Linked DNA regions of Homo sapiens. The protein of the gene in region 2 purifies or fractionates together with the protein of the main gene of each other region. This does not show direct contact. Each region holds a gene or a part of one and is shown on either strand. Other genes may lie near its edges. The genes, in order: PHLDB3, IL13RA2, SDK2 and MELK.

What was found.
Region 1: the proteins of IL13RA2 (region 2) and PHLDB3 purify together in Homo sapiens (affinity purification with mass spectrometry; 2 studies listed by BioGRID and IntAct, with this or other methods). This does not show direct contact.
Region 3: the proteins of IL13RA2 (region 2) and SDK2 purify together in Homo sapiens (affinity purification with mass spectrometry; 2 studies listed by BioGRID and IntAct, with this or other methods). This does not show direct contact.
Region 4: the proteins of IL13RA2 (region 2) and MELK purify together in Homo sapiens (affinity purification with mass spectrometry; 2 studies listed by BioGRID and IntAct, with this or other methods). This does not show direct contact.

Annotation. Positions count from the first base shown.
Region 1 is NC_000019.10:43,501,740-43,508,872, forward strand, and holds the start of PHLDB3 (pleckstrin homology-like domain family B member 3), read right to left. Parts: upstream 3,008-7,133; 5' UTR 2,850-3,007; intron 2,410-2,849; exon of another isoform or gene 2,394-2,409; 5' UTR 2,380-2,393; coding exon 2,167-2,379; intron 545-2,166; coding exon 362-544; intron 133-361; coding exon 1-132. Other genes in the region: ETHE1 (persulfide dioxygenase ETHE1, mitochondrial), read right to left, coding at 5,111-5,163, 6,205-6,321, 7,036-7,125.
Region 2 is NC_000023.11:115,014,615-115,022,458, forward strand, and holds the start of IL13RA2 (interleukin-13 receptor subunit alpha-2 precursor), read right to left. Parts: upstream 3,003-7,844; 5' UTR 2,939-3,002; intron 2,689-2,938; 5' UTR 2,656-2,688; coding exon 2,562-2,655; intron 1,208-2,561; coding exon 1,056-1,207; intron 1-1,055. UniProt on the Homo sapiens protein: Cell surface receptor that plays a role in the regulation of IL-13-mediated responses. Functions as a decoy receptor that inhibits IL-13- and IL-4-mediated signal transduction via the JAK-STAT pathway and thereby modulates immune responses and inflammation.
Region 3 is NC_000017.11:73,333,869-73,340,452, forward strand, and holds the end of SDK2 (protein sidekick-2 precursor), read right to left. Parts: intron 5,073-6,584; coding exon 4,719-5,072; 3' UTR 4,587-4,718; coding exon of another isoform or gene 4,501-4,586; 3' UTR 516-4,500; downstream 1-515.
Region 4 is NC_000009.12:36,568,428-36,575,901, reverse strand, and holds the start of MELK (maternal embryonic leucine zipper kinase), read right to left. Parts: upstream 3,008-7,474; 5' UTR 2,895-3,007; exon of another isoform or gene 2,704-2,894; intron 1-2,703. UniProt on the Homo sapiens protein: Serine/threonine-protein kinase involved in various processes such as cell cycle regulation, self-renewal of stem cells, apoptosis and splicing regulation. Has a broad substrate specificity; phosphorylates BCL2L14, CDC25B, MAP3K5/ASK1 and ZNF622.

The DNA.
Region 1 (7,133 bases), on a different chromosome or scaffold from region 2:
CCGCTGCTGGCGGCCGCGCTGCTCCGAGGCCGCCTGCTGCTCCAGCAGCTCCCGCAGCTGCTCCTCCTCCCGGCGAGCGGCCACTCGCTCCCCAGCCAGCTCACCCCGCAGCAAGGCCACCTCCACCTCCATCTGCGGAGAGAATGCCAGGGCTGGGGGCTCGGACGCCTAGGTCCAAGGAAGAGGCCCAGGGCCTGAACTACCGGATTCGAAGGGAGGATGGACTCCAGGGACCTGAATTTGGAGGGAGGAAGAGCGGAGGGCCTAAAATCTGATCCCACCCGAGGAAAAAGCTGGGAGTCCGGCTTTGCGGGTTCCGCTTGAGTTGGGGCCAGGCTTCCCAAGGGGTCCGCAGCCTCACCTCGATCCTCAGCTCCTTCCTCTGGCGCTGTAGCTCCTTCACTCGCTGCTCCATCAGGGCCACACGAGTCAATGCCTCCAGCTGCTGTCCTTGCAGGCGCCGCGCCGCCCCTCGCACCCCTTCCCGCGAAGAGGTGGATGCGGGAGGTGTGGCCGCCATAGCTATCGGAGGCGTAGCCTCGGGCTGAAGTTGAGGGGGGCGTGGTTAAGTGGAGATGCCTCGCCCCCTGCAATCACTAAGTAGGTCTGGTCCCCACCCAACATCACCCTCTGCGGGTCTCAGTCCATCAGTCCACTTACCTAACACAACCACCACTCCCATAATCTGTCGCAGGCTCTTTTCTTTTTCTTTCTTATCTTTTTTTTTTTTTTGTCCTGAGATAGGGTCTCACTGGCTGGAGTGCAGTGGCGCGATTACGGCTCACTGCAGCATCGACCTCCCTCGCTCAAGCGATTCTTCTGCCTCATCCTCCTAGGTAGCTGTGACTACAGGCGCGCACCGCCACGCCAAGCTCTTTTTTTTTTTTTTTTTTTTTGGCAGAGAGGGGGCGATGCTATGTTGCCCAGGCTGGTCTCAAACTCCTAGGCTCAAGGGATTCTCCCACCTCGGCCTCCCAAAGTGCTACGATTACAGGCATAAGCCACCGCGCCCGGCCTCAGACCCCTGTATTTAAGGTCGGAGTGGGGGAGGGTGCAAGTCCCGTGACCACCCAACCACACGGACCACAGAGGCTTGCAGTACCGTATGGAGGGTGAGCAGGTGTAAAGCCGACTTATGAAAGGTGTTTCTTTTTCTCTATCAGGTCCTATTCTCTTGGCGTCACTTTCTTGTAGTGCCTGGATCTGTCTCTGTCTCTCCACCTGACCCCAGTCTCTCAGATTCGGTATCTGTCCACTAGATCTGTCCACTAGAATCACTAGATCTTTCTTCCTCGGAGTATGTCCCTCTCTCGAGGTTTTTGTCTATTTGTTTCTCTGAGCATCTCTGCCATTTATTTCTGGGTTTCCCTCTGTCTCGATTCCCCTCTCTCTGACTCTAGTCTCACTGTGTCTCTGTCTTTTTGGGGTCTTTGTCTCTCAGTCTCCATGTCTCTGGGTCTCTGTCTGGCTTCTTGATCTCTCTGCATCTCTTACTCGTTTGGTTCTCTCTGTTCTGTAGTCTCTCCTGTCTGTCTATCTGGTCTCTCTCTCTCTCTCTCTCTCTCTCTCTCTCTCTCATTTTTAGAGATAGGTTCTGCTTTGTCCCAGGCTGGGGTGCAGTGGCGCAGTCATAGTTCACCGCAGCCTACAACTCCTGGGCTCAAGCGATCCTCCTGCCTCAGCCTCCCGAGTAGCTGGGATTACAGGCACGCGGCACTGCGCTTGGACAATTTTTGTATTTTTTTTTTCTCTAGAGACAGGGATTTGCTATGTTGCCCAGACTTGTCTCGAACTCCTGGGCTTAAGCAATCCTCCCCTCGGCCTCCCCAAGTGCTGGGATTACAGGCGTGAGCCACCTATCTGGTTCCTCTATACTAGTCTCTCTGTCTCTGTCGCCCGTTTGGGTCTATCTCCGTTCTTGGGGCCTCCCCGTGGCTCTATCTGGTTTCTGTCTCTGTATCTGGTTTCTGTCTGTCTGTGCCTCTGCCTCTCTGGCTCCGTGTCCTGGTGTATCTCTCTCTCAGTAGTCTCTGCTATCACTCGGTCTCTCTCCCTGTCTCCGGGTCTCTGTCTTTCTGGTTTCCCTCTACCTGTCTACCTGTCTGGCCACCTGTTTGGGTCCCCGTCGGTCCAAGCCCCCCGCGCTGTCGCCCTCGGGCCCCTCACCGCGTCGCGGCTGCTCTCAGTGCTGCTGCCTTCTCCCACTTCTTCTTCCTCTGCCTGCTGCTCAGCTCCCCCGCGGCTCGAAGGTTCCGCCAGGACTTCGGATGCCTCCTGTTCCCGGGACTCCTCGGGATGGCCCTGGGGCTGGACCTCCACGTCGCATTCCGGGACCAGCGGCGGCGGGGTCCCCTCCTCGGGGCTGCTTCGCGTCCCCATGGCCGCTGGGACTCCTGCGGGGTGGGCGGGACCAGAAGCTCCGGGGGCGGGGCCTAGGACGGCTGAGCGCCGCTCGCGTCTGCTCCGGGGCGCGGAGACCCCCCCCCAAGGAGGCGGGGCCTAAGAGTTCAAAGGATGGAACTGAGCGTTACGGAGGCGTGTCCTGAAGTTTCCAGAGGCGGGGCTTGATGGCTCCAAGGCGACACGCCACCGGAGACGGGACCGGAATTTGAGTCCGGGTCGTAGCACGCCCCCTACTGACCTCTTCGACCCCGCCTCCCCTCCCTCATCTCTAGGTGTCAGGCCTTGTACCCTCCCAGCAGCCCCCTACAATCTCTTGGATTCGCTTAGAGCGACCCATCTTCTCCCTCCGAGACTCAGCAGTTCGGCTCCCGCCCCATCCTTCCCGGAGCCCCGTAGTCTTAGTCCCGACCCCACTGTGCAGGGCAACCGTGCCCACGCCGCCTCACCCAGGGATCCAGGAGTCGGGGCTCTCCTTCTCTGAACAAGCCAGGAGTCGGAGTCCTTGAGATTCCGAAGTCCAACTGCCACCTCCCCACAGCCTCGGCCCCCTCACGAGCTCAGGCTTCGGCGCGCTCCGCTCTGCGCGCTGGGCACGGCCGCTTCTGCCTATGAGACAGGTGGCAGGGGAAGAGGGAGGAGAGAGGCCGCCCGGTCCCCCTCCCCAGCAGCCCGGAAGTGGAGGGGGGACAACAGGTCCAACAGCTCCCGAGGGAGGAGGGAGCCACGGGCTTGCCCCACCCGTGGCCTCGGCATCCGGCCATCCCGGCCCCACCGGCCCCGGCCCGGCCCCACCCTCGTGGAACTCAGCATCGCGACCTCCCAGTCTCCCTCGAGCCCCTCATTCCTGCCCCCCTGGAGGAGTCTTGGCCACCTCTGTATGGGAGCCTCTCTAATGTCCAGACCTTGGGAGTTCAGAAAGGAAGGCAGGAATGGAGATGGGGACGTCTCCCCTCTAATGAGCCCTTCAGAAGGGCCCTGACCGGTTTGGGGAGCTGGACAAGGGGAAGGGGTGCCCTGAACTGAGTCAGACACCTGCCCAGAGACTGAGGGAAGTGTACCGCCACCCCCCCACAACTTTGCTATGGGGTGGAGGGCAGAGGTTAAAGGTCTCAGCCAGACCCTTTCCTCTCTGGGCGAAAACAGGAAAATGAAAACAGGAAAATAACTGGTATATGAAAAGGGATGATTAGAAGTCAAGAGCTGTGTGAAACACTTTATACCCAGTCATTTAATTTCACCCTCAAAGCTGTCCAGCGAGAAAGTGATTACTACCTCCATTTCTTTTTTTTTAGTAGAGACTGGGTTTCTCCAGGTTGCCCAGGCTGATCTTGAACTCCTGGGCTCAAACAACCTGCCTGCCTCAGCCTCCCAAAGTGTTGAGATTACAGGCGTGAGCCACCGCTCCTGGCCTACTATCTCCATTTTACACTTGGGGATACAAGCTGAGGAGGACAAATGCACCCAAGGTTGGCTGGGCACAGAGGCTCAGGCCTGTAATCCCAGCACTTTGGGAAGCCGAGGCAGGTGGATTGCTTGAGATCAGGAGTTCAAGGCCAGCCTGGGCAACATGGAGAAACCCCATCTCTACTAAAAATACAAAAATTATGCCAGGCGTGGTGGCACACACCTGTCATCTCAGCTACTCCAGAGGCTGAGGCAGGAGGATATCTCGAGCCCAGGAGGTCGAGGCTGCAGTGAGTCTTGAATGTGCCACTGCACTCCAGCCTGGGCGACAGAGTAAGACCCCATCTCAGAAAAAAAAAAAAAAATGTAGCCAACATCTACACATGTTGTAAGTGGTAAAATGCAGGCTTCATTCTCTCAAAAGTCCATGTTCTTAACCATTGCGTATACTGTCACTACAAGCCAGGAAGTACCCAAAAGATCATTCTAAATGATAGTAACTTTAATGGTGAACACTGATAGGCCATGTGCCAGGCACTCACACACATTGACTCATCAGAGCATCACAACACCCCATTATTATTCCTTCCATTTTAGAGATAAGAAAACTGAGGCCTAGAGAAGTGAAGTAACTTACCCCAGGGCTAAGTGGGAAGTGGCTCAAAAGCAAGCCGGTGTTCTAATCCAAGGTGATGAGAAGACCTGCCCCAGATAGCTGTGTTTGTTTTTGATCTTGTGAGTTAGAAATCTTGTGGGCTCCCGGGCTGGGCGCGGTGGCTCACACCTGTAATCCCAGCACTTTGGGAGGCCGAGGCTGGTGGATCACGAGGTCAGGAGATCAAGATCATATTGGCTAACATGGTCAAACCCTGTCTCTACTAAAAATATGAAAAAATTAGCCGGGCATGGTGGCACGCGCCTGTAGTCCCAGCTACTTGGGAAGCTGATGCAGGAGAATCGCTTGAACCCGGGAGGCAGAGGTTGCAGTGAGCCGAGATCGTGCCACTGCACTCCAGCCTGGGCAATGGAGGGAGACTCCATCTCAAAAAAAAAAAGAAAAGAAAAAGAAAACAAATCTTGCAGGCTCCCTGGCCTCTCCATAGGACCAGAACCCCACCCCTTTCGGCCCAGAAACCCAATTGGTTCCCCCAGAAAATAGGTAGAAGTCAGACTCACGTTAAAAAAAGTTTTATTTAGGGAGCTCCAGGGAATGCGGTGGGAAAGGAGAGGTGCAGTGTCATTGCCGCCCTCTCCTCCCACCTAGTGCATTAATAGTGGATGGGAGCATCTGACAGAAGTGAGATCAGGCAGTGGGTGTCTGCACCCCACAGCGCATGTTGGCTGGAACAGCAAAGTCTGAAAGGAAGAAATCAAGGTTAAAACTAAGGGGCCTAGGTAGAGTTCCAGGCCCCACTGGAGACCCAGAAATCCTAGGAACCTTTCCTCTTCAGGAAACTAGAGTTTTGGTCCTGAGCCCACTCCTTCCCTCAGACCCAGGAGTCCAGTACCCCAGCCCCTCCTCCCTCAGACCCAGGAGTCCAGACCCCCAGCCCCTCTTCCCTCAGACCCAGGAGCCCAGACCCCCAGCCCCTCCTCCCTCAGACCCAGGAGTCCAGTCCCCCAGCCCTTCCTTCCTCAGACCCAGGAGTCCAGTCCCCCAGCCCCTCCTCCCTCAGACCCAGGAGTCCAGTCCCCCAGCCCCTCCTCCCTCAGACTCAGGAGTTCAGACCCCCAGCCCCTCCTCCCTCAGACCCAGGAGTCCAGGCCCCCAGCCCCTCCTCCCTCAGACCCAGGAGCCCAGGTCCCCAGTCCCTCCTCCCTCAGACCCAGGAGTCCAGGCCCCCAGCTCCTCCTCCCCCAGTCCCTCCTCCCTCAGACCCAGGAGCCCAGGTCCCCAGTCCCTCCTCCCTCAGATCCAGGAGTCCAGGCCCCCAGTTCCTCCTCCCTCAGACCCAGGAGTCCAGGCCCCCAGTTCTTCCTCCCTCAGACCCAGGAGCCCAGGCCCCCAGCCCAGCCCCTCCTCCTTCAGACCCAGGAGTCCAGGCCCCCAGCTCCTCCTCCCTCAGACCCAGGACCCCAGGCCCCCAGCCCCTCCTCCCTCAGACTCAGGAGCCCAGGCCCCCAGCCCAGCCCCTACTCCCTCAGAGCCAGGAGTCCAGGCCCCCAGCCCCTACTGCCTCAGACCCAGGAGTCCAGTCCCCCAGCCCCTCCTCCCTTAGACCCAGGAGTCCAGGCCCCCAGCCTCTCCTCCCTCAGACCCAGGAGTCCAGGCCCCCAGCCCCTCCTCCCTCAGACCCAGGAGTCCAGGCCCCCAGCCCCTCCTCTCTCAGACCCAGGAGTCCAAGACCCCAGCCCCTCCTCTCTCAGACCCAGAAGTCCAGGTCCCCAGCTGCTCACCTATCTGCTGAGGTTTAGGCAAGTTCAGGTTGCCCATGATTTTGACAAACTCCTCACAGCTGAGGGTGAGCCGAGGGTTCAGAGTCCTCTCCTCCTCCACGGTGGACACTGTGAACCCTAGGGGCCAAGGGAGGGGAAGGAAAGTCAAGGAGTCTAGTGCCTCAGGCCTCTCAGAACTACATTCCCCAGGAGGCCTTGGGTGCCTCTCTGGCAGGGGCTCTTCCCAGAATATTCCTAAAATTGCTTTCCCTCCTCCATGGACACTATGGGAAATTTAGTTTTCCCCCAGTTCCCTAAGCTCCACAAGTAAGGCCCAGGAAAACCCATGCCCTGCAGAATTCTAGGCATCTGGCAGTCACATAGTTTCTACATCCACACACAGCAGGCTCAAGCACTTTATCTCTTTTTTTTTTTTTTTTTTTGAGACAGGGGCTTGCTGTGTCACCCAGGCTGGAATATAGTGGTACAATCATAGCTCACTGCAGCCTCAACCTCCCAGGCTCAAGCAATCCTTCTACCACAGCCTCCCAAGTAGCTGGCAGCATGCCACCATGCCTGGCTAATTTCTTGTATTTTGTAGAGGCAGGGTTTTGCCATGTTACTCCAGCTGGTCTCGAACTCACTCCTGGGCTCAAATGAGCCTCCTGCCTTGGCCTCCCAAAGTGCTAGGATTACAAGTGTGAGCCCCCTTGCCCAGCCTCAAACACTTAATTTTTTTTGGCCAGAGAAATTTCTGAGACTGGTCGTCTTCATGCCCTACAAGGATTACAGAGATTTACACTCCACTTTCAAAGTTATGTACGCCCCACACCTCTTCCAGGAAGCCCTCACCATGGTAATCGTGAGCAGGGTAGATCAGACAGTCTCCTGGAAGTGTGAAGATCTTTTCATGGACCGAGTGGTACAAGGTCTTGGCACAGCCTGGGGAA
Region 2 (7,844 bases):
CTCCATGGTATAGTGAGCTATATTAATAAGACTAATAAATCATTAATACCCTGGAGAGTTCCCAATATCTAAGACAATCCTAGAGACTATTTGATACAATGCCACAGATACATTTCCAGCAGAGCTCACCTCTGTATGTCATATCATTTTATGAGATCATTTGAATCTTAACATCTAATTCCAAATAAAAACAAAAACTTTTGGAAGGGAAAAAAAACTTTATGGCAGAAACTTGAGCTATATCTGCTTGGAATCAAATAGATAATTTTCATATACCATAGGCACATTACTTGGCAAATCATGCCACATTTCAAAATATAATATGAAACCTTCAAGAAATACATAAACTAAAACCCTGGAAGTAACCAGAAAAATACAGACAAATCATGAGCTTCTGGAGGACAAAAATCATTTATTATTTATTCATATATTCCTGATACCTAGTAGAGTGCCCAGCACAAAGTTGATCAATAAATGCTCAATTTGAATTGTCTCTTGAAACTACCTAGCTGAATTAGAGAGGTAACAGAATGTCATCTACAACAGAAATCTTTGAATATACATGCTTGTTGAGTATATAAGTAGTTAATAATTCAAAACATTTTCATTGAGCTCTTACTACAATATATACAACGAACCATAATCCTGCGACCCTCTGTGGGAAGGGTACAAAGATAAATAAGCCTTGTCTCCTACAGTAGAAAAGGTCACAGGTCAGTAGCATGTATAAGGCCCACATCCAAGAATATAAGCAATTGTAAAATACAGTGAAATGCTCTTCTAGTGAAGTGCTGCTCTTCAAGTTCATATTGCACGAGACCGAGTTTTTTGTTTTTGTTTTTGTTTTTTTTCTTGTTCTTCCAATGGCAATCTTAACACTGGATGGGGTGAAAACAGATATAGCAGGATGCATAGGAGACAGAAGCGGGTGTGGAAGCTTTTTATATCCTAATTAGAACTATTGAGATATGGGAATTGGAGCGGACACTAAAGTCAGGAATCACAAAGTAACACCTGATGATCACTCTGATACGGCAAATGCATGCTTTACTTACCTTCCATGTTTCACTACCAATGTTTCGGTATTTTAGTTCATATTCCACTGTGCATTCCTTAAAATGATCCAGAGACAGTGGGGGTTGCCATTGCAAATAGAGATAACCTAAGTATCCGGGATCCACTATCTCAAAATCCTGAGGAGGGTTAACTGAAATAAATCAATAAAACACTTTTATTTTTTCTGTATTTTATGACAAATATTGCTAAATCTAGATGGCTTCCAAATGTGCACCAATTGATTAACAGATAAACAAAATGTGCTACATGCATACAATCAAATATTATTCAGCCATAAAAAGACATGAAGTACTGATTCATGCTACAACATGGATGAACCTTGAGAACATTATACTAACTGAAAGAAGCCAGACACAAAAGACCACATATTGACATAGTTCCATTTCTATGAAATTTCAAAATAGACAAATTCATAGAGAGAGAAAGTAGATTCGTGGTTGGTAGGGGCTGGAGGGAGAAACAATGCAGGGTGACTGCTTAATGGGTTTAGGGGCTGTTTTACGGGTGATGCAACTATTCTGGACTTTGATAGTGGTGATTGTTGCACAACTTTGTGAATATACTAAAAACCAACGTATAGTAAAGAGTTTTACTATACATGTATAGTTTTAAAGAATATAGTTTTGTATAAAGAGTTAGTTTTGTGTAAATTATATCTCAGTAAGGCTGTTAAAAAAATCTAGATTACTGCTATATAGTTGTTCCTTCTTTGAGAAATCACATATGCAAAATGTGACTTTGCCTCACTAGGTATTAATTTTTAGAGAAGCAAAAAATTCAATGTGGCTTTATCTCTGTGCTCATGTACGCCAGAATTTGGTCTAAGATGGGAACATTTTATTACAAAAATCTGTCTAACAATAACAATAACAAATAAGAACAACAAATAATAACAAATAATAACTAACATATCACTATAATATAAATATATGTATTTAATTATATTAATTATAATATAATATATAATATAATAATATACTATAAATAATTTTAATTAATTAATAATAAAACATTAACATTATATTAAATAATATAATATAATTGAAAAATTAAATAATTCTAATTATTTTTAAATTTTACGTTAAATTTCTGTACCTTTTTAATGTATCTAATTGTCATAAAAGCTAAGGATAGTAGCTAAGGATAGTAATTAAGGAACTGTTCCAGTTAGTTTAGTACCAGGCAATGAGGTTTCAGATACTTAATCTGTTAAAAAAGACTATACAAAAAGGTATGGAGAGTGTTTTTAATTTGGCATTTATCGCACAAAATGTGTGTCAACATCAGTTACCTTATACAAGAAAGTGACTAGTAAGAACATAGCTTTTTTTCATGAACTTCCTGAAATAGTTTCAATAACAATTCATCTACTAGTTAGTTATGCACTTCCATAAGGCAGGTCAAAAAGACAGTTAATTTTCCATTAAAATCCATTTAATTTTACTTTTCCTAATTTAAAAACTATTCCATTAAAATCCATTTACCTTTTATCTCGGTGTCTGAAGATGAAGTACAGCCAAATGTTGTGCTTATCAGAAAGGTATATAAGCATCCGATAGCCAAGCAAACGAAAGCCATTTCTCCGAGATTTAAAACCTTGATATTGCCTCTCTATGAAGGAAAAATATAACATTTTAACTTTATCTTACATCAAATAATCAAACTAAACGTGATTAAAAATACTTTGGAAAGCTCTCTGTGTGCTTCTCTACCAAGAACTGGGAAAACTGTGTCCACCTCAGACCATGGAAACAGAAATAATCAAGTTAGGAACCAATATAATTGGAAAGAAAGGATTCTAGTCTCATCCTGCTTACAAGAATAAAAACAAAGCTAAGCAAAAACCCTTGTAGCTCCTCACCTCCCCGCCGACAGGCACACTTCTGACCAGGTTATGGCGACTTCAAATAGCCTTCATCCGGAAGACCGTTAGACTCACGAGAGTGTTCTTACTGGTTCACAATGGAGTTATGATATCATCCATCTCCATAGCAACCGTCTCCCCTAGCAACACATAAAACACAGTCAAATACTCTTTTCTGAGGGGAAAAAAAGAAAAAAGAAAAAGAAAAAAGTATTTGAAAGTTATTTCGGCCGGGCATGGTGGCTCATGCCTGTAATCCCAGCACTTTCGGAGGCTGAGGCGGGTGGATCACCTGAAGTCAGGAGTTTGAGACAGCCTGGCCAACATGGTGAAATCCTTTCTCTACTAAAAATGCACAATTAGCCAGGCATGGTGGCGGGCGCCTGTAATCCCAGCTATTCGGAAGGCCGAGGCAGGAGAATGGCTTGAACCCGGGAGGCGGAGATTGCAGTGAGCCAAGATCCCACCATTGCACTCCAGCCTGGGCAATAGAGCGAGACTGTCTCTAAATAAATAAATAAAATAAAATAAAATAAAATAGAAAGTTATTTGACCACTGAGAAAGCTCAGAACCTAAACCGAAGCCTCAGAGAGTTCAAAACTTTGCTCTGTTTCCTCATAAATATTTCTTTTTTTAGTTTAAAAAAAGTGTTTATTTAGCTCTTTCGCCCCCTGCTGGACGATTGACTTTCTTCTTTGCTCCTTTTTTCTTTTAATTACTTCTTTTAATTAAAATTTTTTATTTCCATCTACTCTCATTATTGTTCCACTTTTTCCTGTGTTTCCTTTATTAGTAAATGGCATCGCCATCCTTCCAGTTGCCCAAACCAGAAACCTGGGAGTCTTCCTCAACTCCTCTCCCATCTAATCTCTCCATTACCACTACCACTTCCTAAATGGAGGATCTTAGCAGGGATCTCCTTATTCAGTCTTTCCTGCCTCTGATCCATTTTCCACACCATATACAGCAAGAGTGACCTTTCTAAAGGGCAAATCTGAACTTTTCATCTCTTTCTTAAACTAAAACAGCATTTCATTGCCATAGAATACAATTTAGTCATCTTTCTGTTCTTGGATATTGGTTCTTGACGGATATGATCAAAATTTAAAGGATTCATGCCTTCAAATAGCTACTCAATTAAAAATACTTTGCTTTTCAGGAAAAACTACTACTCCCAATTCCATACACTTCTCTTCGAATCTATATTCTGGAACCAACAATTTCACATAAAGTAAAGGATTAAAAGTCACTCAAAAGAAAAGAAGGGACTGCCCTTCTTTTCTTGTGCATAGATTAATTCAATAGGACAGACCCTCTCTTCCACCCCACCCTCTTCCCCCTACCTGATCCATCTGTAATATTGTAACTTTGGTAAGCCTCAATGGCTACTTTATAGAATCTTAGGATCAAATTTTTAGAACCAGTATGTATATTACAGACAAGGCTAGTCAAATTCTCTTTTATAAATTGGGCAGTAAAACTCAGACTTGCCCCACCCAAGATTACACAGCAAATTAGTAACAAAGCTGGAAGTAGAACAGAGATCTCATGATGCCCAGTCCTGTGCACTTCCACCCCATTCTGCTGGGTCCCACAGGCATGACTCAGGATTATGAACGCTTTTCCTCTGGAACCCCAGTGTTTAAATCTTCCTTTAATTAGCAAACCAAGCTGAATCAACACCATGTTATTTTAAAAATTCTGCGCCTCATAAAATCAGGAGAGAATGTCATTTCTCTCACTGAGGCCCAACAAATCTCTCTTTCTCCCCAATTCCTCTCTCTTTACTTGCCAGCCAATGGCTGCCCACTAATGCATCTGTAAGTACTAGGTAGATTTGGCTAACAGAAGGTTATGGATCTTCCACAGAGCTACCCTCAGAGATTAAGATGAACACACTGGTTACTACTGGGATCAGGGCAATAGGTCTGACAAAGAGAAAACCTTCCATATTACCTTTAAGGACTAAGGGCAATCAGGCTGCCCTTACAATGCTCTCAGAGAGATTCTAACAAAATTCTCTCTCCCCTATCGATCTGTCCTTTAAGATTTCGTAGCATTATGTCATGTACAGCATAAATGCTAAGTAAAGAGTTTAAAATCATTTGCTTCTATTCCATTTATAGGCTATGAAATCTGACTCAGGCTATCAAATAGCATTTCATGGATCAGACTGATCAATATACCCAAGCAAAGGTGGAAAATGGGATAACTAGCTTCTAGCATCACTTATGGATAAACCCACAAAAGGAGTTGCTGAATTACACCTAGGGCCCAACCAAGACTTTCTTACCCAAATGAACACAAAGACAATTCTCTCCTTTGCTTCTGGGTTACAGGATTGTCACTAGTGCAATGAGGGGCTTTATACACTATGTGGTTACCAGGAACACCGGAGTTTTTCACAAGGACCAGGGGGACCTGAAGACAAAGGGAAGATTAGAAAAGCAAATGCAGACATATTAGATTTGAAAAAGTTGTTTTTCTATATTTCAGACCCCCAGACCACAGTTCATAACCACTCATCTGGTCTTAGCTCCTCATTTTTAAAAATAAGGAAATAACAGCCAGAGAGGAAGGTAAGTAAGCCAAGTGTACACAACTTATTGGTGGCAGAGCTGGGATTGAAAACCATATCTCCTGAACCCTTTCCACTAACTAGCAAATAAATGTTCTTATCATAATGAATCTATCCTGCACCTATTTTACTAGAAGCCTCTTCCTAACTCCCAACCTTCCTCTACCTACTGTCACCACCCAAACCATCCAGCCCACCACACAGTTTTATCATTATGACATTTCTGACAGAGTAATAATTCAATAAATATTTATTGAGCATCTTTGGAAGTTTTTTGCCAGATACTATCCCAGCTAAATCTTGCAGAAGACACAAAGTGAAAGTGGCAACAGTCATAGTATCTGTCATAGTAATAGTACCTTCTAGTATTTATTCAACATCTCAGGCACTGCCCTGTGCTATGCAATTTATATGCATTATCTCATATAATCCTCACAATCAGACTTGGACATATATACTATTTTTAGTTCTATGTTATTTGTTTAAATTTTCTTTTTAACTTTAATTTTTAATTGATACATAATGATTGTACATATTTGTGGGGTACAGTGTAATGTTTTGATACATGGATAACGTTGTGTAATGATCAAATCACGGTAATTAGCATATACATCACCTCAAACATTTATCAGTTCTTTGTGGTAAAAACATTCAAATTCCTTTCTTCTAGCTTTTGAAAAATACAATTCATTATTGTTAGCTATACTCACCTTACTGTGCAATAGAAATCAGAATGTATTCCTCTTATCTAACTGTAACATTGTACCCATTCACCAACCTTTCCCCATCCCGGCTCCCTTATTCCCTCCCCAGCCTCTGGTAACTTCTATTCTACTCTCTACTCTATGAGATTAACTTTTTAAAGACCAGAAACTATGACATACAGAAGTCAAATGGCTTCCCTCAAGTCACACACCATAAATGGTGAAACTTGGATTTAAATCTAGACAATCTAGTACCAGAGCCCTTGATGGTAATCACTACACTAGGTATTTTCCATGCCTAAGATCAATGTGGAGGGGAGCTTTCTATTTCTACCCACTCAGTTTTACACAACACTTTTGAGATAGTTTCTCACTGAGAATCTCCTTTGGAATGGCAAACCTAAAGTGATTGCCTCTTCTCGGCCTCGCTTCTCCACCGCTTCAAAGTCATGCAACATAATACTCTCACTTTAACAGCTGGCTGCAATCTTTGCATTATTGGAGAAATTCCAGGTACTTACCAATCATATGGTTTCTCAAGAAATAGATTAACGTAAGCAGTTATCACAGGTCCTCTTTTGTTCTCCTCTCTACTTTAGAGACATTAATTAGAATCTCTAATACTTTCCTGCCTAATAATCAAGCACGTAGAAAATATTAGTTAGGTATTCCTGAAACAGTCACAGGGCCAGGACACAGATTCTACAAGCCACAAGATGGGGAAGTTATGGGTGAGGCCAAAAGCCATCTAAAGCAAATTTGGAATTATACCAAGGTGCTGTAAAAGCTGGCAGGACCAACTATTCTTTGGATAAAGTAACAGATACATAGCCGAGGAGCTTTTTATAATAAAAGACACAACGGTGTAAGTATCAATCTGGATTTCACTCCTGCCTCAACCACTGTGATAAGAGGTAAATTATATCTCAATTTGTATCTATAAAATGGAGGTAATGATACAAGCCTGGCAGGGGTGTCTTGAAGATTAAATAAGATAATGTATGTGAAAGTGCTAGAAGAATAGTAAATTGCTCTATATACTTGAGAGGGGTTTGCTTCTGAGGACACTGCCACTAAGCAACACTTGAAAATAACTTACCACATCCTACACATTTGCCTTTATTAATTCAGCAAAATAAACTTGTTCATAGTAGATAATTAGACACTTATTATTAATTTCCAATTTCTACCACCCTTGTTGATCCAATATGCTGCCTTTACTGATCTTTGCCATAATAACAGTAATTTCTTTCGTTTGTTTAGCTTTTTGTAGTTTGTAAAGAATTTGTTTATTTTTTAACAGGTCTGTAAGTGTATAAGGTTTGTACTGCATGTTTACAAACAGTAAAACTGGGGCTTAGAGAAGTGATATGACTAGCACAGTGCCCCACAGCTGATACAATCTATACAGAAAGGATAGGAAAAAGAAGGAAGAGACAGAAAAACATTGCTAGGCTAATAATACATAACATGGTCTTTTAGAAATGTTCTTTCTCTATGTTGACAAAGGAAAAAAAGATTCTTCTACAGTATCCAAAATGACCATATGTTTTTTGTTTTATTTTATTGTAAAGGCAGTGACCAATTTGCAAAGACAATTATTTATTAGAAAATGATAAA
Region 3 (6,584 bases), on a different chromosome or scaffold from region 2:
CTCTGTAGAAATTAAAATAAAAATGGACAAGGAGCTTGCCTTAAAATATCAGAGAGGCAGCATTATGTTTTGAGAGCCAGAAGGCTTTAGTACAAATCCTGGCTCCACCACTCCCCGAGGGCAAGCCACTTAAAGTCTCCCTGTCCCAGGTTTCCTCCTTGGGACTGTCGCAAAGATTCCATGAGTTAATAAACGTAAAGTGATTAGAACTGTGCCTGGCACAGAGTGAATGCCATAGACATATTAGCTATTGCTATTATTATTATTCACTATAATTTGCACATTGCATCAAGTAGGTTCTTATTCTAAAAGTTTAAAATAAATAAAATAGTGCATTTCACTGGAAGGCACTCACTTATGCATTAAGAGAGCAGATAAGTCAGACCCTTGACTCTTCTCTGCAAAAGCACAGCATGGCTAAAAATTGCTGTCTGGGGAATGAACTGCTTGGGTATGATACTGGGACAGGTGACCCCATTCATGTAACAGGAAGGAAAAGAATGTTGCTTCAAATCTCCAAAAAAAAAAGTTTATTTATAAAATACTGACAGTTTGACAGGACACGGGACTTCTTGTGGTATATATTTCAAATCAATTTCTTTCTTACCTTTCATTTAAAAAATAAACCTGCTAACACGCTATATGACATAGAGATATATATTTTTTTCTTACAGACAGACACCTGCCATAATGAATACTCTCCCCATAATTTTTTGTTATATCTTTTAAATCAAAAAATAAAGATTTGTGTTGATTTTTGTTTCTGGAGTCTAGATGGATGGAGAAAGGTAACACGTTTAAATGCTTTTGGTTATTCTGATGGAAACAAAGAGAAGGGGGGTGGTCCCGAGGGGGCACCTGTGCTCAGGTGGTGGTCAGGATTGCCATGTGCGCATGCCCATGGGTGTCCCTGGATAGGGCCATACAGAGGCACTGGGGAGCGGGTGGCGGCTGCTCAGATGGTCTCCCCTTTACCTTCCTGCCCACCAGCCCCTCACCCAGGGTAGGCACCTTCAGATGTGCACTCTGGGAAGCTGAGGGAAGCCCCTGCCCAGCCAGAGTGGCACTGTGGTGAGGCTCTGGCACCTTTAGAAGCACTGCCCAGGGAGGCGTGGGCAGCAACAGAAGGCCTTGAGGCAGCGTGCACCAGGTGGGGGCAGCCCCCGCTGTGTCCTTGTTTCCTCTAAATCACGGCAGTGCCAGGTTTGGGGGTAGGAGTTTTGGGGGCCGGGGGGTGAGGGATGGACAGAAGGGGAGGCAGCCTGGGTTTGCAAACTCTCTGGAGCCCTAGGAGGATGGTGGTTCTGGAGCCCAGAGCATCTTTTTGGTTTGTCTTGGCAGTGTGGGTGTGGAGCTGACGTCAACTCTGGAGGCGCAGCCAGGAAGGGGAAAGCCCTGGTGTGCCCAGCATGGGCTCCTGGGTGCAACACTGGGAGATTGCTTAGGGCACAAGGAGGCAATGCCAAAGGTGCCAGGTGTGTCCTGGTGTGAACCTGCTTTGGGTGGAGTCCCACAGGCAGGGGCCCTGGCATCACTGGCACGGAAAATCACAGGCCAGAAAGGGTCCCACTCTTTCTACAAAGGGCAGGGCCCACCACCCCTTTCTAATGTGGCCAGGTTTCTGGGAGGACGGTTGGGAGCCTCGGCTGTGCCAGTAGATATGTAAACAAGGGCAAAGAGACGTGTCCTGAAAAAATCTAGAGTTCCACAGCTGCAGGCCTGGGCTTCCAGCTGTGGCTGGGGCTGTGGAGACAATATTCCAGATGAGTGGGTATTGACTAAGTGTGGGACTTTCACCATGGGCCCAGCCTGATCTCATGGGCTTGTCTAAATTTGCGTGGTGTCCTCACCCTCTCAGACAATAGATCCCAGCCACGCCCCAAGTGCAAGCAACCCAGGCCACCTGTGCCTCACAGGGGAGAGATGGCTTCAGCCATCAGAGGGAGTTCAGGAGTCTCTTTGCTAACACACATACAGATGTGTGTTCTGTGCATATTTGTGTGTGCATGTGTGTAAGCACAGGCGTGCATGGGCACCATCCCGCATGTACACGTAGGTGTCAGCATGGGTGCGAATGAGCGTGTGGGGAGTGGGGGGGTGGAATATCTTAGTGCACCAGGTGATTCATTAAAGGCAAAGGAAAATTGACCTCATGTGCAATATATACACAGACACAATGTTTTTACTCACTCCTGCTTCCTCCCAAATAATCCCTCACTGGGCTGGGCTTAAATAATTCCCTAATGCAAACTGGGAACTTCCTTAAATGGTTAAATGCTCAGCAGAGAGGGAAAGGGATGAAGTTATTTAAAAAAAAAAAAAAAAAAAAGATGAGAGGAAAGAAAAGAAAGCTGTGCGGCACGATCACAGGCCGGCAGCTGCAGATGTGCTGCCATGGAGATGCCAGATGCTGCAGAGGGTGGGGGCGGAGGTGGCAGGGGTGGAGCAGGTGTCCAGCTGACTCCACTGCAGCCCCCAGACAAGTCCAAGGAGGCCCCGAGAGCACCTTACTTCCTGGAGGGGCAGAACCTCAGCCCTTGGTTCTCCTTTGGGGAAGATTGTGCTTCCCTTCCCAGGCCTCCTTATTGGAGAAACCGCTTTTTGGACACTGGAGCTGGGCTGGCCTGTCTGCTGAGCCATCTTCCAGCATCTCCCCGTTCACATTTCCCAGGGGTCAAGTGCTTCAGGAAAAACTCATGGCTGGGTGTGCCCGTTCTTTGGGCCCCAGACCCTGACTTCCCTTCCCGGTCACCATTAGCACAGTGACTGACTTGGGGCTGTAGGAGAGTGGTCCAGGCTCTCTCTTACCTTGGCATGTTTCCCAAATCTCCTACTTGGGCTTCCTTGAACTCTGCTCACCCACCCCAACAGAGCATCATCTCTTGGGCAGGGCCAGCAGCGCCTGTACACAGTGCACAGAGGGAGCCCTGCTCCACGAAGGGGCTCACGCTGAATCAGACAGGCCCCTGTGGGCCATCTGCCACCCATCTCAGCGGTGGGGCAGGTGTTGGGCTGGCCTTACAGGGCTGGCTGAGGGCACAGAGGGCCTTGGACAATGTATGGAGTTAGATAGAAAGGCTTCTCCCTAAACCCTGGCATCCGTAAGTACCAAGTGGACGGGAAGATCCTGGCCACTGGATGTGGCTTTTTGCAGAACACTCCTTGGAGCAGATTGTGTATGTGTATGTGTGTGTGTGTGTGTGTGTGTGTGTGTAAAAGCATTCCCTCCCATCAGCTATTCTTGTCACTTGGTCCCATCTGACCTGCCCCTGCTGGGCGTGCAATTCAAATGCTGGGTCCACTTTGGACTGAGCTTCCTGACCTGCCCCTTCCCCTCCCCGCCCTGGCCAGGCGGAGCCCAGCCTGGAAGCTGTTACTGGGGGTTAGGGTGTCTTTGCCTTTTTGCCTGTAAACTGGGTGCTAGGCTGACTGAGCAAACTCTGGGTATTCCAGCCTCTGGACCAGGGACTTGGGCCACCCCTCTGGGCTCCTGTGCCTCTGTGCTTAGGAGGCTGCCGGGTGGCAGTGAGAGGGACACAGATCTGAAAGTGAGTGTGCTGTCTGGCTAGGAGGGCCCAGATGAGTTTGTTCTGGAGAGGATCCCTAGACCCTGTTCCTTGTAAGTGCATGGGAGATGTGTGTGTGTGTGTGTGTGTGGTGAGGATCTATCCAGTGGAGAGTGACGTGTCTGCCCAGAGGGAGATCCCTCAGCTGTGCCCCACTCCCCAGCCTTGGGAAGCTGACTACCCCTTTAAAGAGAGGACGGATGGAACCTGGATTGGAAGAAAGAGAACAGTCAAAGTGTCATTCTTATCTTGCCCACAATGCGTTAAACCTAATCATCCCACAGTGCCAAGGCCAGTCGCCTTATTTACACCTCTGCTCCCCAGACTTCACCTTTCCTTGTCCATGCTCAGGAAAGTCAATTCCAGCACAGGGAGGCAGGGGTCAGTTGTGGGGGGTTTCTCCCCTACCCTTGGGCTCTCTTCCTTGGATTCAATATTTTAAAAAATATGCAGGAACAAGGAAGGCGCTAAGCAAATTCTCACCCTTTAGTTTTTTGTTTTTTGTTTTTCTTCCTTTTTCTAAATAAACCAAATGCTTGGTGGAGAAGTTGAGCAGGGGAGATGGGCAGTAGAGGTTGCCAAGACAGGGCAGGGGGTCTGGATGAGGCTGTCCGATGCCTGCCAGCCACAGTGATGGTGCATGGAGGGAAGGAGGAGCAGAGAGAGAAGATAGGCGTGGCCTCCGGGATGCCCATTCTTTTTGCAGAGAGCAGCGGCAGTGGGTCCAGGGGTCCTGGAGGGGCTGGAAGGGGGCAGCTGGCTGGACATCCAGAAGCTTTTTCTTCCCTCGGCCACGCCTGCCTGGCGGCCTCCAGTCCTTAGCCTCCGCTCCCTCTCTCTCTCCAGATGCCCGCCCCACTCCGTGTCCATAGCAGTGACACAGCCACTTCCCCAGCTCCGTGTAATTCCCAAGGGAGCAGTGAACCCCACCATCTCAAAGCTGAAGAGCTGCTGGCCACACACATCCTCTCACGGTTTTCTCCCTCCTTCTGAACGCCGGCTTTGCTGGCCCTGGAATCTCTGGAAAAATAAACTCAGGAGGTGAAAAGTTGACTTGGTTTCTTGGTGTTTTTGTTTTCTGGCAGGCAGTGAGAGGAGGGGTGAAGGAGGAGTTTGGTGCCATTTCTCTTTCTGCTTTTTCCTCTTCTGATGTCAAACAAATGATGAAAATCCTGCTATGGGAGCCCGGGAGCCTGGGGCCAGGCTGCTGGGGGGACGGTAGAGGGTGCTCTGCTGACTTGGGGGGTTAGGGGGGTTCTGGGGCGTTGGAGTCCGACTGGCCTTGGGCCGAAAGAGGCTGCCCTGCTGGGTGCTGGTGCTGTTGGTGACGGTGGTGTGGTCTGGCTCACCCGAGTCGCTCTCCGTGTAGCTGTAGGCCTGTGCCCTCGAGATGCCCTTCTGCTGTCGCCGCCACGAGTTGTAGTATGTGGGGTCACTGATGTAGTGGTTGACAAAGGAGTGGGCCTTCTGGTGGTTTGAGTCGACCTCGTACTCGCTGTCACTTCCCTGGGAGGACAGAGAATCAGGGTGTGTCAGTGGCCCCGTAGGGACAGGCCATTGTGGTTGGGGCCGGAAGGCACAGGGCATTCTGGTTCAAAACTCTGCTCTGCCTCTTTCAAGACTTGGACTGTGGGCCTCCCAGCCCCCTCACTGCCAAGGGGGTCTGGTGCCCGTTTGTGCCCGCCTGCTGCTTCCTTCACAGCAGATCCGGAACCGGAAGGATCTACTATGGGGTTGGCCCAGAGCTGGGAGATACCTGATAGAATCAGAAGACCTGAGTTTTTTTTTGTTTTTGTTTTTGTTTTTTTTTTTTGAGACAGAATCTCGCTGTTGCCAGGCTGGAGTACATTGGCATGATCTTGGCTCACTCCAACCTCTGACTCCCTGGTTCAAGCAATTCTCCTGCCTCAGCCTCCTGAGTAGCTGGGATGACAGACATGTGCCACCACGCCTGGCTAATTTTTTTGGTATGTTTAGGGGTTTCACCATGTTAGCTAGGCTGGTCTTGAACTCCTGACCTCAAGTGATCCACCCGCTTCACCCTCCCAAAGTACTGGGATTACAGGTGTCAGCCACTATCCCTGGCAAATTTTATTTTCTTTCCTTTTTATTCTTTTTTTTGGGGGGCGGGGAGTGGAAGGGGCACAGGGAATCACTGTGTTGCCCAGGCTGGAGCACAGTGGTGTGATCCTCTCTGTAGCCTCAACCTCCTAAGCTCAAGCTATCCTCCCATGTCAGCCTTCTGAGTAGCCAGGACTATGGGTGCATGCCACCACGCCCCACTAACTTAAAAAAATTTTTCTCTTGTGATGAGCTCTCCTTATGTTGCCCAGGCTGGTCTAGAACTCCTGGACTTAAGTGATCCTCCTGCCTTGGTCTCCTAAAGTGCTGGGATTACAGGCGTGAGCTACTTTACCTTACCTTTGTTTTCTTTTCTTTCTTTCTTTTTTTTTTGATACGCAGTTTCACTCTTGTTGCCCAGGCTGGATGCAATGGTGCAATCTGGGCTCACTGCAACCTCCACCTACCCGGTTCAAGTGATTCTCCTGCCTCAGCTTCTGGAGTAGTTGAAATTACAGGCACCTGCCACCATGCCTGGCTAATTTTTTGTATTTTTAGTAGAGATGGGGTTTCACCATGTTGGCCAGGTTGGTCTTGAACTCCTGACCTCAGGTGATCCACCCGCCTTGGCCTCTCAAAGTGCTGGGATTCAGGCGTGGGCCACCGTGCCCAGTCTACCTTTGTTTTCAATTGAAGTGAGGTTCACATAACCGAAAGTGAACCATTCTAAAGTCTATGACTCAGTGCATTAGGACCGTCGCAGTGTTGTGCAACCACCACTTCTATCCAGCCCTGAATCATTTCCATCACCCCAAAGTAAAACCTTGTACCCAGGAAGCAGTCACTCCCTATCTCTGCCCCTACCGGTCACTCCCTATATCCATGCCCCTGGCAACCACTAATCTGTTTTCTGTCTCCAGGGATTAACTTATTTGGGACTTTCCTATAAATGGGATC
Region 4 (7,474 bases), on a different chromosome or scaffold from region 2:
GAGCAGGAGAATGGAAATGGAGGAACACTGGACTATAAATCTGAATGCACATGTTTACATTCCATGCAAAGGACTGGGCTATTTCAAATTGTCACTCAGAAAGAGAAAGCAATTTGTAAGATGCTGGAATTCACTTCCCAGATTAGGGATTTAAGAGTGTCATAATTAACTTAATAGACTTCTCCCAAAAGAGTTATAAACATCCCAGTCATGGCCTCTGGAAAACTAGCAGAGATGGGCAAGTTGTTTATTTAACAACTAAGGTAAGACTGAAGCCATGCACTTTTTTTTTTCTTTCTTTCTTCCATTTTCTCTATCTACCCGCTTCTCTCAAATTACATCATGTCTTTGGATGAGTAATACCAATGTGGGCCTAGATTATAGCTACTGAATCAAGGGAATATCGTTGTTGCTGCAATGTGAGAAAACTGGTGCTTACATTACAAACTCCTACACTAATAGCAGATTATACTTGATTTGTAAATCTTTGTGAATGTGGAGCTGGTTCTAAATATTCTCATGTGCCCTGTTTATCCTCTAGAGTTTGTTAATATAGAATACAGAAAAGCCTTGAGAACAGAGTAACCCAACTTTGTAGCTGCTGAAGGAGGTATATTATCAGTCAACGCGGAAGACAGCCTCTCAACTGTGAATAATGAAGAAGGAAATTAGACCCCAATCAGACACCTGAGTGCCCTTCTGGGCTTGACTAAATAAATAGAAGAATTGGGGGTATATATAATTGGGTTTTGTTTTTGTTTTTGTTTTTGAGACGGAGTCTTGCTCTCTTGCCCAGGCTGGAGTGCAGTGGCGTAATCTCGGCTCACTGCAACCTCCGCCCTCTGAGTTCAAGCAATTCTGCCTCAGCCTCCCAAGTAGCTGGGATTACAGGTGTGCGCCACCACGCCCGGCTAATTTTTTGTATTTTTAGTAAAGATGGGGTTTCACCATCTTGGCCAGGCTGGTCTTGAACTCCTGACCTCACAATCCATCTGCCTCGGCCTCCCAAAGTGCTGGGATTACAGGCGTGAGCCACCGCGCCCGGCCTATAATTGGGGTCTTTAACTTCTCAGAAGAGCAAGGAATTGGGATAATGAGAAGACGTTTATGGTTAAATTTTAAAGGATAGCAACAAATTGGGGGCATTTTTTAACAATATTATTTGGGCTATTCTATTACTTGCCGCATAAATACATTTACCTTATCTACAGAGCTTGGAAAGACACTGATGCTGAGGATAATTTCAAACAGGAAGTAGAATACAGAATGGTTTTTTGGGTTTTGTCTGTTTATTTGCTTGAGACAGGGTCTCGTTCTGTCACCTAGGCTGGAGTGCAGTAGCTAGATCTCGGCTCACCGCAACCTCCGCCTCCTGGGTTCCAGAGATGCTCGTGCCTCAGCCTCCCCAGTTGCTGGGATTACAGGCATGCGCCACCATGCCCGGTTAATTTTTTTTTTTTTTTTTTTTTTTGTATTTTTAGTAGAGACGGGGTTTCGCCATGTTGGCCAGGCTGGTCTAGAACTCCTGGCCTCAAGTGATCCGCCCACCTCGGCCTCCCCAAGTGCTGGGATTACAAGCGTGAGCCACCACGCCGGGCTCAGAATGGTTTATAATGTGGCCTGTAACACATTTAATTAGCATCCTGCCCTGCTCCCTTGCAAAGGCTTCTGGGAGCACCAACAATGAGGCACTCATTGGGATTGATCTGCCCATCTAGTTGGTCCACAGTAGTTACACAGAAAGGACAGACCCTTGGGAGAAACAAGCCCACGAAGGCCCAGTAAGGGCTTTTCTGATTTTTCTGATTTTCTAGCCAGACTCCATGGGAAACAGAAACCAAAATTTAAACCAAAGTTAGGAACACTGGCCTCTAAACAACAATCCAGGCTCCTGATACTCACCTCATTCCACTAACAAAGGAGAAATACCAAAGGTAATTACCCGTCCTAAGTGCTAGGGACCTGATTCCTCTCTTGGGCAGCCTTCCCTGAGTCTACCCTTTCCAGCTCCCACAACCCTACACCAGGTTTCTTGGTGGGAGCAATCCTGCTGCTCCTATTACTGATACAGCATTCGGTGAAAATTCCCCTTTTAGGCCGGGCGTGGTGGCTCACGCCTGTAATCCCAGCACTCTGGGAGGCCAAGGCGGGCGGATCACCTGAGGACACGAGCTGGAGACCAGCCTGGCCAACGTGGTGAAACCCCGTCTCTACTAAAAATACAAAAAATGAGCCGGGCGTGGTGGCGGATGTCTGTAAGCTCAGCTACTCGGGAGGCTGAGGCAGAAGAATCGCTTGAACTTGGGAGGCGGAGGTTGCGGTGAGCCGAGATCGCGCCATTGCACTCCAGCCTGGGCAACAAGAGCGAAACTCCGTCTTGAAGAAAAAGAAAAAAAATTCCCCTTTTAGTGTGAGCCTCTGAAGCCACTACTCTGGGGAGATGATAGGAGAGGATGGATTTGGACTCTGAAAAGGTAGTGATAACACATCTCCTTTTTTATTGCACTGCCCCAGTAAACTGAGTTGTACAAACAGAAAAAACTCGAAACCCTTCTGTCAACTTTTTTCGCGGGGAAGAGTCACGGAAACTGGAAACGGGAAATGGGAATTCACGTCTATCGCAGCCTCCTAGGTGGCAAACGCTTAGCCTGAACACCTCTTCAATAACCCTGTTAAGTAGACACGGTCATTATCCCCACTTACGGAGAAGAAAACCGCGGGTCGGAAAGGTCAAATATCTTATCCAGGGAACAGGGCTGGTAAAGCGCGGGGCTCCGATGAAATCCTCCAGTCTCCCGAGAGCCAGGAGCAAACTGGGTTTGGGCCGCTGCGCCCCGCACAGCCCAGACCCCAGCCATCAACTGCGACTGCGGCGGGCAGGCGGGAGAACTGACCTGAGGGGCGGAGGGCACGGCTGAGCGGCGCCCGACAGAAGGACAGGGGCCTGCTGTCCTGAGAGACGCGGCTGGTACGGCGTTCCTAAGAATCTTTTCGATCGCCGGGTTGTGGCCGCTTCCGCCCGCCAAGGGAATCAAATCTCCCGGGCCGGAAGGGGCGGGGACGCGGCGGGGGCGCGCGCGGCGCCGGATCCCAGGGAAGCGGACGCGCACGGCAGGCGGGGGCGCGCACAGTGCCGGGGGGTTCTCACCGGGGCAACGGCTCGCGGTCGCTGTGGAGCCGTGAAAGGGATGGCCGGGAGGTCCACTGGGCTGCGAGGGGTGACTTGAGGCCTTGGTCTTGCCCCGGAGGGCACGTGATGATTTTCCAGGTGGCGTGGATATGCCAAGTCTCCACAGAACCCAACTTTCTTACGTTCTCTTCCTAAAATTGACGTGCCCTCTGGCAGTCACAGTTCTCATTTTCGTCCTCCCTTGCCCACTGGCCGTTCTCCCACCCAGCAAAGACAGGAATACCTCCCCCTCTCCAAAATGTGTTGCCACGAGGAATAAGAACCCCAGTAGCTGAGACTACAGGCACGCGCCACCACGCCTGGCTAAATTATTTGTGGGTAGAGACGGGATCTCGCTATGTTGGCCAGGCTGGTCTCGAACTCCTGGGCTCAAGCGATCCTCCCGCCTCAGCCTCCCAAAGTGCTGGGATTACAGGCGTGAGCCACTGTATCCGGCCCAGAAAATCTTTAGACAAATTAAACTTTACAGAGTTGAATTGACCAAAGAATGAGTCCAAAATCCAGTAATCCCTGGAACCAAAATAGGTTCAGAGTGATTCGGGCTGCCATATGTTCAAATAACATTTATGGACAGAAAAAGGAAAATGACTTACAGAAATTGCAGTCAAGTATGGAAACAGCTGGATTGGTTGCAACTCAACCTCTGACTATTTTGAGCACTGTTTAAACAGTTGGCCACCTGTGATTGGCCAAAACTCCGCTGCTGTGATTGACTGAGACTCGCTACTTGTTACAAGGTTACAGTCTCTTTACACATTTACAATTGTAGTTGTCTACAATTCACTATGTATGGAGAAACTGTTAGGCCAGGTGCAAAGGCTCACATCTATAATCCCAGCACTTTGGTGGGGGGGCGGGGGCAGATCATTTGGGGTCAGGAGTTCGAGACCAGCCTGACCAACATGATGAAACCCTGTCTCTACTAAAAATACAAAAAATTAGCCGGGCTTGGTGGCGCGAGCCTATAATCCCAGCTACTCAGGAGGTAGAGGCAGGAGAATCTCTTGATTCTCTCTGCTGGGAGGCAGAGGTTGCAGTGAGTAGAGATCGTGCCACTGCACTCCAGGCTGGGCAACAGAGCAAGACTCCGTCTCAAAAAAAGAGAAAGAGAGAAAGAGAGAGAGAAAAGAAAGAAAGGAAGAGAAGGGGAAGGGAAGGGGAAGGGAGGGGAAGGGAGGGGAAGGGAAGGGAAGGGAAAGGAAAGGAAGGGAGAGAAAGGGAGAGAGAGAAAGAAATAAATTGTTAGTCTGAACTTAAAATGCATAAGGAGGCAGCTTTATGCTAAACTTAATTTAACATGGTCATCTGAATCTTCAGCAAATCATAATCTTTTTGCTGGTGGAGGGTCTTGCCTCCATGCTGCTGATTGATCAGGGTGGTGGTTGCTAAACGTTGGGATGGCTGTGGCAATTTCCTAAAATAAAACAACAATGCTGCATCGATGGACACTTCCTTTCATGAAAGATTTCTCTGTAGCATGTGATGCTGTGTGATACCATTTCATCCACAGCAGGACTTCCTTCAAAGTTAGTTCTCTGAAATCTTGCCACTGCCTTATCAACAAAGTTTATGGAATATTCTAAATCTTTTGTTGTTATTTCAGCAATGATCACAGCATCTTCACCAAGAGGAGCTTCCATCTCAAGAAAGCACTCTCTCTTTGCTCATCCGTAAGAAGAAACTCCCCATCTATTCAAGTTGGATCATGAGATTGCAGCAGTTCAGTCACATATTCAGGCTTCACTTCCAATTCTAGTTCTCTTGCTGTTTCCACCAAATCTGCAGTTACTTCCACGAGTGAAGTCTTGAACCCCTCAAAGTCATCCATGAGGGTTGGAATTAATTTCTTCCCAACTCCTGTTAATGTTGATATGGTGACCTCTTCCCATTAATCATAAATGTTCTTTTTTTTTTTTTTGGAGATGGAGTCTCACTCTGTCACCCAGGCTGGAGTGCAGTGGCGTGGTCTCGGCTCACTGCAAGCTCCGCCTCCTGGGTTCACGCCATTCTCCTGCCTCAGCCTCCTGAGTAGCTGGGACTACAGGCGCCCACCACCATGCCCGGCTAATTTTTTTGTATTTTTAGTAGAGATGGGGTTTCACCATGTTAGCCAGGATGGTCTTGATCTCCTGACCTCATGATCCGCCTGCCTTGGCCTCCCAAAGTGCTGGGATTACAGGCGTGAGCCACCGTGCCCGGCCATAAATGTTCTTAATGACATCTAGAAGAGTTAATTCTTTCCAGAAGGCTTCCATTTTACTTTGCCCAGATCCAGCATAAAATCACTATCTATGGCATCTGTAACCTCACAAAATGTATTTTGTAAATAAAATGACTTGACAGTCAAAATCATTCCTTGATCTATGGCCTACAGAATGGATGTTATGTTAGCAGACATCCAAACAACATTCATTTCCTTGTACATCTCCATCAGAGCTCGTGGGTGACTAGGGGCATTATCAATGAGCATTAATATTTTGAAAGGAATCTTTTTTTCTTAGAAGTAGGTCTCAAAAGTGGGCTTAAGGTATGCAGTAAACCTTAGCCAGCTGTGGCGGCATATGCTGGTAATACCAGCTCTTCAGGAGACTGAGGCAGGAGGATCACTGGAGCCCAAGAGTTCGAGGTTACTGTAAGCTATAATTACGTCACCGCATTCCAGCATGGGTGGCAGAGTGAGACCCTGCCTCAAAAAAACAAACAAACAAACAAAAAAGATATTCAGTAAACCCTAGTATAAACAGTTATACTGTCATCTAGGCTTTGTTGTTCCATTTATAGAGCATAGGCAGAGTAGATTCAGCATAATTCATAAGGGCTCCGGGATTTTCAGACTGGCAAATGCACACTGGCTTCAACTCCAAGTCACCAGCTGCGTTAGCTCCTAACAAGAGAGTCAACCTGTCCTTTGAAGATTTGAAGCTAGGCATTGACTTCTTCTCTTTAGCTAAGAAAGTTCTAGATGGCTCCTCTTCCAACCTAGAACTATTTCCTCTACATTGAAAATTTGTTATTCAGTGGAGCCACCTGCATCAATGATCTTAGCCAAATCTTCTGTATAACTTGCTGCAGCTTCTACATCCGCACTTGCTGCTTCACTGCGCACGTTTATATTACAGAGACAACTTTTTTTCTTTTTTTGAGACGGAGTTTCGCTCTTGTTGCCCAGGCTGGAGTGCAATGGCGCCATCTCGGCTCGCCGCAAACTCGCCGCAAACTCGCCCTCCCAGGTTCAAGTGATTCTCCTGCCTCAGCCTCCCAAGTAGCTGGGATTACAGGCATGCACCACCACGCCCAGCTAATTTTGTATTTTTAGTAGAGACGATGTTTCTCCATGTTGGTTGGGCTGGTCTCAAACTCCTGACCTCAGTTGATCTGCCCGCCTCGGCCTCCCAAAGTGCTGGGAGTACAGGCGTGAGCCACTGCACCCAGCCTACAGCTTCTTACCTTAAATCTCATGAACCGACCTCTGCTAGCTTCCAAATTTTCTTCTGCAGTTTCCTCACCTCTCCTAGCCTTCACAGAATTGAGGAGAATTGTGGCCTTGCTTTGGATTAGGCTTTGGCTCAAGGAATTTTGTGTCTGGTTTGATCTTCTATCCAGACTACTATCTATCAGCAGTAAGGCTGTTTCGCATTCTTATCACTCATGTGTTCAGTGGAGTAGCACTTTTAATTTTCTTCAAGAACTTTTCCTTTGCATTCACAATTTGGCTAATTATTTGGCACAAGAGGCCTCCCTTTCAGCCTATCAGCTTTGGACATGCCTTCCTCACTAAGCTTAATCATTTCTAGATTTTTATTTCAAGTGACAGATGTGTGACTCTTCCTTTCACTTGAACACTTAGAGGCCATTGTAGGGTTATTAATTGGCTTAATTTCAACATTGTTGTGTCTCAGGGAATAGGAACGCCTGAGGAGAGGGAAAGAGACGGGGAACAATCAGCCAGTGAAGCAGTCAGAACACACACAATATTTATCAATTAAGTTTGCAGTCTAATTACGGGTATAGTTCATGGTACCCTAAAACAGTTACAAGAAGAGCATCAAGATCTCTGGTCCGCTGTGCAGGCTCACGCCTGTAATCCCAGCACTTTGGGAGACAGAGGTGGGCGGATCACGAGGTTAGGCGTCAAGACCAGCCTGACCAACACGGTGAAACCCCATCTCTACTAAAAATACAAAATTAGCCAGGCATGGTGGCGCATGCCTGTAATCCTAGCTACTTGGGAAGCTGAGGCAGGAGAATCACTTGAACCCAGGAGGCAGAAGTTGCGGTGACCCA